Linked DNA regions of Homo sapiens: region 2 is linked to region 1. Evidence: fine-mapped expression QTL. Tissue or cell type: esophagus muscle. Region 1 holds a variant in brackets; the other region holds the start of a gene. All regions are shown on one strand. Distances are from middle to middle.

Region 1 (5,149 bases):
AAATTCATTAGCTATTAGAATTAAAACATTATTCTGTAGACCAAAGCAAGAAGACACCCTTTTTACCCTGACTCCCAAACCTACTGATATTCACAGAAATTTATGATTACACAATAAACACTAGATTTCTGACATCTCATCATCCAAAAATATTGATTTATTCATTGTTTTGTAAGTAAAGTGGAAAAAACAATAAAAATATATTCATCAGAAAGGGCTACGACCAGGGACCTTTGTACTCTTCTTCCTTTGTCTAACAACAAGAAACAAATATTGGTAAAGTAATTTGTATTATTTTCTTAGTTACTTTTTGGAGAATTATACTTTGACTCATTACATTAAAAACTGTTCTCGTATTCTTCTCATTACATTAAAATATTGATAGAGTTAGAAGGACTCTGTTAGAAATTTCAGAATAAATATAATTCATAAAAGTATGTGAAATGTAAGGCTGGGCATGGTGGCTTACACCTGTAATCCCAGTACTTTGGGAGGCCAAGGCAGACGGATCACTGGAGCTCAGGAGTTTGAGACTAGCCTGGGCAACATGGGGAGACCCTGTCTCTACTAAAAATACAAAAATTAGCCTGGTGTGGTGGTGCACGCCAGTAGTCCCAGCTACCTGGGGGGCTGAGGCAGGAGGATTGCTTGAATCCAGGAGGTCTAGGCTGCAGTGAGCCAAGATTGTGCCACTGCACTCCAGCCTGGGCAACAGAGCAAGACCCTGTCTCAAAATAAAAAGTATATGAAATTGAAATACGTTGTCTTTTTCTGAAAGGTGGTATGAAACCTAATGATTGTTATTGAAATGTAAGAAAGGCCCCTGGCATTAATGGATATGGACACAGTTTTCCGTCTGTATGTTAAAACAAAAGTTCTGCTTTAGCCTGATTATCCACCAAGTTTTGACTGTGTGTGTGTGTGTGTGTGTGTGTGTGTGTGTGTGTGTGGTTATATACATATACATACATATATACATATATGACATATTGGACTTATAGGTAAGACTTTTAATTAATTAATTATGTATATATTGAAACACAGGGCTCGAAGGGAGTATTGGGAGAATCTGCTGCCAGCTTCAGGCAGACCTTTCTGTCCTTCGCTGTCAAAGCCAGACTTCTAAGGAGTAGTGAAAGAAAACCCTGAAATAATCGAACAGGAAAAAGTTGCCCTCAAGCCTGACCTGGAACCGTTCCTCACCTTCATCCTCACCATGCCCTGCTATCTCCAGCTGCTGAGCAGCTGAGGTGCTGCAGCCCCTTCCCTTCCAGCCCACAAGTGTGTGCATATTGAGCTCCTGCTGTGGTTAAGCACTGCAACAGACTCTACCAGAGATGCAAAGAGAAGCGAGAGAGGCACCTTGTTCTCCAAGAACTTACTGTCCAATCATGCTGTGGTGCATTCCTTTGAAGATCATGAAGAATAGCCAAACTTGTCTTTGAGGGTGAATTTGACACTTTAAAATAATCAGAAGTCACTGAGACCCAAAGCTAGTGAATAATTCAAGTGACTAAGCTAGATACTTGAGGATGATAGAGCAACACTAAACTAAAGCAATGAGTCTGCTTTTTTTAATGATTTATACAATGACTCCAAAGGCAATCCCAAAGAAAAGATGTAAAGAATGTTTTGAGCAATGGTAGCATTATTGAAATAAATGTTTAACTATCCAAAGTGATTACTTTCAAAGATGATTTTTACTTAAAGATATTAGGTCTGGCCAGGCGAAGTGACTCACACCTGCAATCCCAGCACTTTGGGAGGCCGAGGCGGGCGGATCACCTGAGGTCAGCAGTTCAAGACCAGCCTGACCAACATGGTGAAACCCTGTCTCTACCAAAATACAAAAATTAGCCGGGCATGATGGCGGGTGCCTGTAATCCCAGCTACTCGGGAGGCTGAGGCAGGAGAATCGCTTGAACCCAGGAGGCGGAGCTTGCAGTGAGCCGAGATCAGGCCATTGCACTTCAGCCTGGGTGACAGAGTGAGACTCCATCTCAAAAAAAAAAAAAAAAGATATTAGGTCCTAGAATTTTTAAAATGTGTCTTCATAATCATAGGTAGCTAGGTTATAAACTATTTAAAGACAAGATCACGTGATAAGCTTATAATCTTCTCATAATTCCCCTTACTTAGCATTGTGTTAGACATACTAATAGGTGCACAGTGAAATACTTATTGTTGATTGTTTAAAAATAAAGTTTTAGAAAACCTTTTCAAAAGTCAGAGTTTAGGCCAGGGGCACAGGCTGACACCTATAATCCCAGCACTTTGGGAGGCCAGGGCGGGCAGATCACTTGGGTCAAGAGTTCAAGGCCAGCCTGGCCAACATGGCAAAACCCCATCTCTACTAAATAAAATACAAAAATTATCCAGGCATGGTGGTGCATGCCTGTAATCCCAGCTACTT[G/C]GAGGCTGAGGCATGAGAATTGCTTGAACCTGGGAGGCAGAGGTTGCAGTGAGCTGAGATCGCCCCACTGCAATCCAGCCTGGGAGACATAATTCAAATCTATTTTGGTCTTATATCTTCTTATGTTTGTGTTATTTCATGTGTGCCAGTTTCTCTTTTTTTCACAACAATTTATCAATTTGTGGCAATAAAAATGATTTACCTTTTATAGTGTTTGAATGTCGAAAATGTCATGAACATTCTTTGGAATAATACTAGCAAATATTTATTACTCACTATGTCGCAGTCTTTGTTCTAAAGATGATCTCATCTACATATACCCCCCAACAGGGATTCAAAATTAGATAGTGTTTAACACAGTAGTTTACAGGTAAGGAAACTGAAGTTTAAGGAGGCTAGGTAACTTGCCTGAGGTCACACAACTAGTAAATGTGAAATTAGTAAATTTGGATTTGAACCCATGGGGCTGGCTCTAGAATCCATGCCCTTAGCTACTGCACTACACGGCATCTGTCATGCACACAGCTGCTGCTTTTTGTCAAAAATCTATCCAAATTTTTCTGTCGCTGGATTCAAAGTATTTTTTATCAACTTTCCTTATTATGAATTAACTCTTCAAACCTGCCATGACTGTTTCTGTAATGTTGACAACCTGGAATTTATTTGATATAGCCACTTTACCCATAATACACAACCCCACCCTGCTGGAAATTAGAAAGTGAATCATTTACTATTATCTCAAGGCCTTTGGGGTCCTTAAGGGTGACTAATCCAAACCACCAATTAAATACCTGAATATCCTCGCCAGCATCTTCATCAGGACCATCCAGTCCCTGTTTGAATCCCTTAAATAGTAACTCACTACCTCTCGAGATCACTTACTCCTTTTTAAGAAACACTTCATTCTCTGGAAAGTTATTCCATGTATTAACTAGAAATCTATTTATTAATGACCCTCACCTGCAGACTTGGAGCACCTAAAGTGCAAATTTATAATTTCTTCCATATAACTCTTTGAAATTTAAAGATAGCTGTATGGCTTTCCTATACTTACTTGTCCTCATTTCCTTCAACTAAAAGGCATAGGCTAAGATGTGCTTTGTCAAATCTACCTGTGTGACACTGTACAGTTACTTAAGCTTTATGCCTTAATTTCCTCATCTGTAAAATGAGGGTAAAATAGAACCATCCTTATTAGGGTGCTATGAGGATTAAATGAGATAAGTTTCTTAGAAACAGTGCATGTCGTATAACAGGCATTCATTGCACATTATATAGTATAATATAATTATGTTGACTTGGTTTCCAATCCCCTCATCCTCATGGTGACTGTCTTCTGGGAACACTCTGGTACCAAAGCCTCTGCTTATTTTTAGTATGTAGTCCTGAACACCACATTCCAGGGGAGGACCGTTTACACAATATCTCCTGCTTGCTTCATAGATTTTGTGGAGAGGGCAGTGCAGGACATCATGAGAATAGCAAGAGTGAAGAAGGTACATTAGGAGGGAGAGATGTCTCCACACCGAATCCCTTCCTTGGGTCTGCACCAGCACAAACAAAGGCTTTTATCTAGTTACTGTACAGTTTAGGTGTGCTAAACTGTATAGGAGTTTGAGACCAGCCTGGGTAACATGGCAAAACTCTGTCTCTACAAAAAAATACAAAAATTAGCTGGGCATGGTGGTGCATGCCTATAGTCTCAGCTAGTCAAGAGGCTGAAGCTTGAGCCCGGGAGGTCGAAGCTGCAGTGAGCTGTGATCACACCACTGCACTCCAGCCCGGGTGACAGAGCAAGACCTTGTCTCAAAAAAAAATAATAAAATAAAATAAAATAAAAATAAAAATTAAGAAAGAAAAAAAGATAAATTTTACCATATAAAAACTTTAAATGTATGAACACTCACACAAAAATACTCTAAACAAAGGCAAAGGCAAATAGGAAAACTGTGTAACAGAGGTCAGAAACCACTCTTCCAGTAAAGGGGTCTTGAGCTGCTTTTGTTCAAACCTCCCCGAACCCAAACAGATGTTGTGAGGGGGGCTCGCCTATGTGATTGGCATTCAGAACCCCACTCCACTCCATTTTCTTGGGCTTACAGGTATTATGAGAGGACAGTGTACCCAGCTGGGACCAAGCAAAGCCTTGGGGTCAGCACTAGCATCAACACCATCAGCCATGTTGATGGTCACTGTTTCAGGTGTAGGATATGAGGTTGTGGATCAGGTGCCCCAGGAAGCACAGTGCACCTCGTGGAGATGATGTGAGGGCCAGGTCGTTGGATCTACAGGCACTGACACAGAGCTCGGACAGTTTCTGAGCATTCATATGTTATCCCGTAACATGGTACCTGCCAGCCCCACTTGACTCTTTCCTTCCCAAGAAGCAGGTCCTCTCCCTTGTTGGGCAACTTCTGGGGATTGATGGTCAGCTCCTGTGCGCCCCCACGTGCACTTTGTACTGCCTCCTCCCCACCTCCCTCAATCCCCACAACTATGTAAGGTTTTCAGAAAAACTTTCTTTTCTTCATATGTTATTATAATAGGACATCACTCCAAAAGCAATAGGAAAGTGAAGTCCTCTTTTCTCAATGGCATCCTTATTAGAGGTGGGGAAATATTTGCCTTATATCTTTCCAGTGCTGGGAAAAAAGGGTGGGGGGAACAGAATAACACAATCTGAGTACTAATATCCTGCCACACATATTTGCATACATTTGATAAGCTAAGGGATAG
Region 2 (5,149 bases), 420 kb after region 1:
CTCCAACATGTTTTAAACAGAGCTGCAGATGCTCAAGGGAAGCCATATTTCTAAGGTTTTGAACAGTAGTATTTTTCAGTATTTTTCTCATTTAAAATTGGTGCAATTCATCCAAAACATTTTTCAAATGCCATTATTTTTCAGCGTTAAGCGCTTAAACTGCTTAGAGTGAAAAAGGTCTCCATCAGAAAGATCGACTTGCAGAAACCAACTAGTGATCATTAAAATGAGGAGGAGAATAAAAAGAAAGCAATTCGTTTTTTACAGTTTGGAGAAATCTTTAAGTCATCTCTAAATCGTTCATTTTACAGGTAAGAAATAGAGTCCACAGAGGTCAAGTAATTTGCCTCAGATCACTAAGCTACTAATAGCAGCGCTAGAAATAGAATGAGGTATTTTAATTACTCTTAGCGGTACCCCCAAATCATGCAAGTTATATATATTCTCATCACTTGTCATTCAAGTTTTTAAAACCATTATAACTTTGTCATTAATTTCTGAGGAACGTCTCCTACAACATGCTCTAAATTTTCAAAGTTATGCATGTTAAACTTCAAATTCTAACTCCAAAAGGAAGGTACTATTCAAGAACTTTCCTCAGAAAGTTTCAAGCGTGTGTACACACCTAAACCATCACGATGAATTGCAGAGTCCATTCTTTAAAACATGCCCCTCAACTACACTTCAGATGTGTTTGTTCAACCACACACACACAAAAAGAGAAAATTCTGGAAGTTCTTCTGCCAAAAAGCAGTGACAACCTGTCAATGAAATCAGATTGCTCCATTAATATATTATGGGTTTCCAGCTTAAATTAGGAAGTGTCACTAGCATTTCATCAACCCACAGTGTGAAGAGTTAATAAAAGACTGGAAAATGCACTCTCAGTTGGCTCTGGGTCCGAAGGAAGGTGTAGATCTGATACTGTTAACTCAAACTGAAGGGCTGAGCTTAAAAGCGAAAAACAAAAGGAGTGAACAAGTTCCTTAAACAAAAAGCTTTTTCCTACGAAATGCACCCGTACCGTGGTGACCGCATCAGTAAGACTGAATTTCAGATTTTCGTTTTAACGCCCCAGTAAATCAATTCTATACATTTTAGCTTTGAATATTCAAGGACAAGACAGAGGGCACGGTGAGGGCAACAATTTACTCTGGATCACTTTCAAGGACTGTTGTCTAACCACTCATTAAAATCGTTCCTTTGTGCAACTGATTATCTAAAAGTACTGAGAGAATGCAGTACTTCTCTTTGAAAGATAACCGTCAGCAAAAGCTAAAATAATGTGATTTTGATTACAAACTGATGCAGCAGTCTGACCAGTAAAGTGTAGAATGCGTTGTCTTTGTAAACATTACTCACAAATCCATATTCAAGTTACAAACGATATATGTGTTTTTAAATTATGACCTCTGGTACCGCTCTACAAAAATGCAAAAATAACCTAAAAGGTTAGCATGCCTATTTCTTTAAAGTATGACCAGCTTAGCAAGGTGGCAAGTTTGTTTGAAAACACAAAACACAATCACCACCACCGCTCAATAATACACATACATAAACAGATTCGAAGCTGTGTTAAGCACAAAAATCCTTACCCCATTTTGCCCAATGAAAACTTGCTCTGAAGTTTCAGCTCTTATGCTACGGAATAACTTCCAAAGGAATTTCTCCGTCTGCTATTTCGCAGTTGCTTTTCCACCCCCACCCCCAGATCCTTGTCCGGAGGTATTTCAAGGATGCTGCCAATTCAATTAGTTCTCTTAGGTAAAATGATTTCTCTCTTGTAAATACCAAAACGTTCAAACAGAGGCGGCATTTGCTTATTCGAGTTAAAATGCTTTGCGGAGGAGACAGCGATCAACTCTATTCCACAAAATGAGTCTACAAGTAGGGAAATGCAGAATCCGGCTTCACCGAGTCCTATAAAAAATGAGTTCGCTGGTCATTTCACTCATGTCCTCCTCGACACTCAGGGAGAGCCAGGTAACTCGGCCTTTTCGGAGCTAAGGCTGCGGGTTCAAATTTCTCCACCACACCAGGTCTCCGGGGGTGGAGCGAGCAACCAAACGCGACGTGCACGTGAATAAAAATCCCAAAAGCAGTAATGCCACGGCTTCCCTGCGCTCACATTAGGAAAAAAACTACACAGGAAAATCTCCTCGAAGTGCAAACCCGGCAGCTCGCAACCTGCACGGCACTCCACATTGGAATCTGTCTTTTTAAATGTTTCTCCTCCTAAGACTCGGAGCAGAGAAGAGGTGGGGAGGACGAAGAGAAGGCTAGGCAGGATCGATTCATTCTCCCGAAGAGAATAAACGGAGCCATTTCCAGGCTGGCAGCAGGCTGGGGGCGCAGCGCACGCCGGAGAGCTGGAGGAGGGGACCCGATCCCACCTCCCTCAGCCCCTTCCCGCCCCCCGCCGCCGAGCACAATGGAGCCCGGCTGGTGCCCGGCCCTTCATTCGCGGCTGCCCCCTCTTCCCTCCTCTCTTCAGAGCACAGCGGGTCTGAGGCTCCCGTCGGCGGAGAATGAATGAATCACAGAGCCAAGCCCCACGCTTCCACTGGCACCCTGCCCCCAGCTCCAGGGCGGGCGAAAGGGGCCGAAGGGTCGACGGGCGCCTGCCCGAGCCAAGGCGGGAGGCTAAGCCCGCGTTGGGGCCAGGAGAGCTGGGCTCGAAGCCGAAGCGCAGCCGCCGCTCCAGCGCCCCCACCCCTACTCCTCGTCTCTCACGCTCCGCGCCGCCGCCACGCGCCGCCTCACATTCCCCGGGCCCCGCCGCCGCCTCTTCACACTTCCATCAGCGCCCGCCTCCGGCTACCGCCGGGCAGAGCAGCGCCAGCCCCGGCGGCCTGAAGCCTGCCGCTGCCTCCGCCTCCGCCGGCCGGCCGGCTGGCAGAGAAGAGGGTGCTGCTTTCCCGGTCAGCGCCGCCGGCGTGAAGCTAGCGCGGCGGCAGAGTGGGCTGCGGGGGGCGGGAAGGGGGCGGAGAGAACGGGGAGCGAGGGCGGTCCCTCCCTCTGCTCGCGGGAAGGGACGGGAGGCGGTGGCCGCCGCGGAGCCGCGGCCGGGGGCTGGGGCGCGGACTGGTCCCGGGAGCCCGACGGGCCTTGCGAGCAGCGGGCCGCGGGAGAAAGCAGCAGCCGCAAGGCGGCGGAGAGGCTGATGGTGGGGGGCCGAGCGGCCCTCGTGGGGAGCTGGGCCGGCGGCAGGCCCTCAGTCCGTTCGTCCTTCTTTTCCCCCCTCCCCTAGAGGCTGGCGGCTGGCTGGCCGTGCGCTCTGCTCCTCCTCTGGCTCTTGGCCCCGCTCCCGACCGCCACAGCCTCCTCCGCGCCCCACACCAGGTGCTCGCGCTGTGTCTCCATCCTCCCCGCAGGAGGACCTTTAAATAGCAACGTCAGCGCGCTTCTCTCCGCACACACGTCACCCGCAGCTCACGTCACCGAGGTGCGGGGGATGATGTCACGCGGCCGGAAGTACTGCTAAATTAGGGAAGGAGCAGGGGGAGGAGGACTCGGCGAGCTCCTGTGTGCCCACCTGCTCTCACTTCTCCTTAAAGGCCAAAGCACAGGAGACAGCCCGAGAGGAGCTCGAACAAGGAAGCGGCGGGAGGAGGAGATTTCCTTGCAACAAATGTGCCAAACCTGAGTGAATCATTCGTAGCAAAAGTGCAGTGTCAAGCGGGTAATAGCCTATCTCCCACTCCCACCGCTATTGCAGCAGCACCCCCGGGCTTCTCTTGTCCTGACTAGCAGGGAAATGTGGGAGGGAGAGCCTGATCACACTGCTGGTAGATGTGCTTCCAACAGGACTTCGGAAAAATCACCTAAATTTTCAATTATAGAGTGCCATTCTGGACATAGTCGACTTTTAAACTTTTTGTTAGTGGTTACCTGAAACACGAAAGAATAAAGAGCAGAGCAATAAGCAAACGAAATAATGTTATAAAGGATAGTAATTTTATTTGCAAAATAGCAGTTTTGACATAGGAAAATGAGTCAATCTTAGTTCACGTATAGCAAATGCCAGTGTGTCCTCTCAGTTTCTCTTCATCAAGAATATGAGTTCCATGACACTTGGCTCCAGCCAGTAAAACAAGAAAGAGAAAAAGTATATGGGTTTCAGTCTGTGGAATTTAAATTAAAATTTAAAAATTAAAAATAAGAAAGAGCACCAAATCCTTTTTCATTAACACAAGCATATTTTCGTCTTCTTTAGTTTTGACCACATAATATGTAATTACAATATCTCTTAAGTGTGTTTTGCATTTTCTGTATGGCAAGGGTGAGTAGCTGTCTATAGGTTTACTAGCTATGTGTGTCTATAAACACCATATTATGAGTGCTTTTTACATTGTAAATTACTACAGAGTTTTTAAATTATTTTAAAGTAATTAGGTTAAAACAATTTTTTAATTAGGTAAATCATATAGTGAACTTTGATTTTATTTTACTTAACTTGATAAGCATGGCCAAGAAATAGAATTGCTGCGTATTGCCAAAGGCCAATACTGTTTCAAGTTAGTCTACAAATTTAGTGACCCTGTTTTCCAGACCAAAATCTAGACACACCATTTGACGTTAGGAAAAAATATTTGAATCTGAAGTGACCTGGAAAATCCAAAACATAGGATTACCAACCTATGAAGTGATTATTAGGAAAGTTATAGATCAATATCAACGCAGTTTAAATAAAAGAAGCTAAAACTCGTTAGAATGTATACCACGTGTGACTTTTAGAAACTGTTTGTAATGTTAAACTACTCACATGGTTCCTAATTAAGGAACATTGGTTTTGCAGCTTTCTGTATTTACATTTTCTTGCTCAAGTTAGGAGTCCAAGATTAAAGAACACCACCAACAACAAAAAAGACCCATTTGTAACTGATTCAAACACTCTGGTCATCTTCACATTATAAAATTATGATCTTGCTTGAAGTTTGAAATATTAAGTCTTTTTTTTGAGACTGAGTCTCGCTCTGTTGCCCAGGCTGGAGTGCAGTGGCGCGATCTCGGCTCACTGCAACCTCTGCCTCCCAGGTTCAAGCAATTCACGTGCCTCGGCCTCCTAAGTAGTTGGGATTGTAGGCGCGCGCCGCCACGCCTGGCTAATGTTTGTATTTTTAATAGAGATGGGTTTTCGCCGTGTTGG

Alleles and levels. Alleles are on the strand shown, and positions count from the first base shown. SD is a standard deviation of normalised expression in the study named.
For the expression in esophagus muscle of the gene that starts at base 2,960 in region 2, allele G in region 1 goes with a lower level than allele C (small effect, 0.16 SD a copy in GTEx).

What was found. PIP is the estimated chance that this variant, and not a neighbour inherited with it, causes the effect.
Region 2: HOMER1 starts here. The variant in region 1 is fine-mapped to the expression of HOMER1 in esophagus muscle (GTEx, PIP 0.95).

Annotation. Positions count from the first base shown.
Region 1 is chr5:79,087,449-79,092,597 of GRCh38, forward strand. BHMT2 (betaine--homocysteine S-methyltransferase 2) reads left to right here. Exons shown (of 8, transcript NM_017614.5): 8 at 1,045-2,621. The coding sequence ends at 1,126. Among named protein-coding and RNA genes, the nearest start is that of BHMT2, 20 kb to the left of the region's middle. The variant G/C (reference allele first, on the strand shown) is at 2,414.
Region 2 is chr5:79,511,175-79,516,323 of GRCh38, forward strand. HOMER1 (homer scaffold protein 1) reads right to left here and starts at 2,960. Exons shown (of 9, transcript NM_004272.5): 1 at 1,596-2,960. The coding sequence starts at 1,600. RefSeq lists a silencer at 2,533-3,242 and enhancers at 3,237-3,784, 3,493-3,682.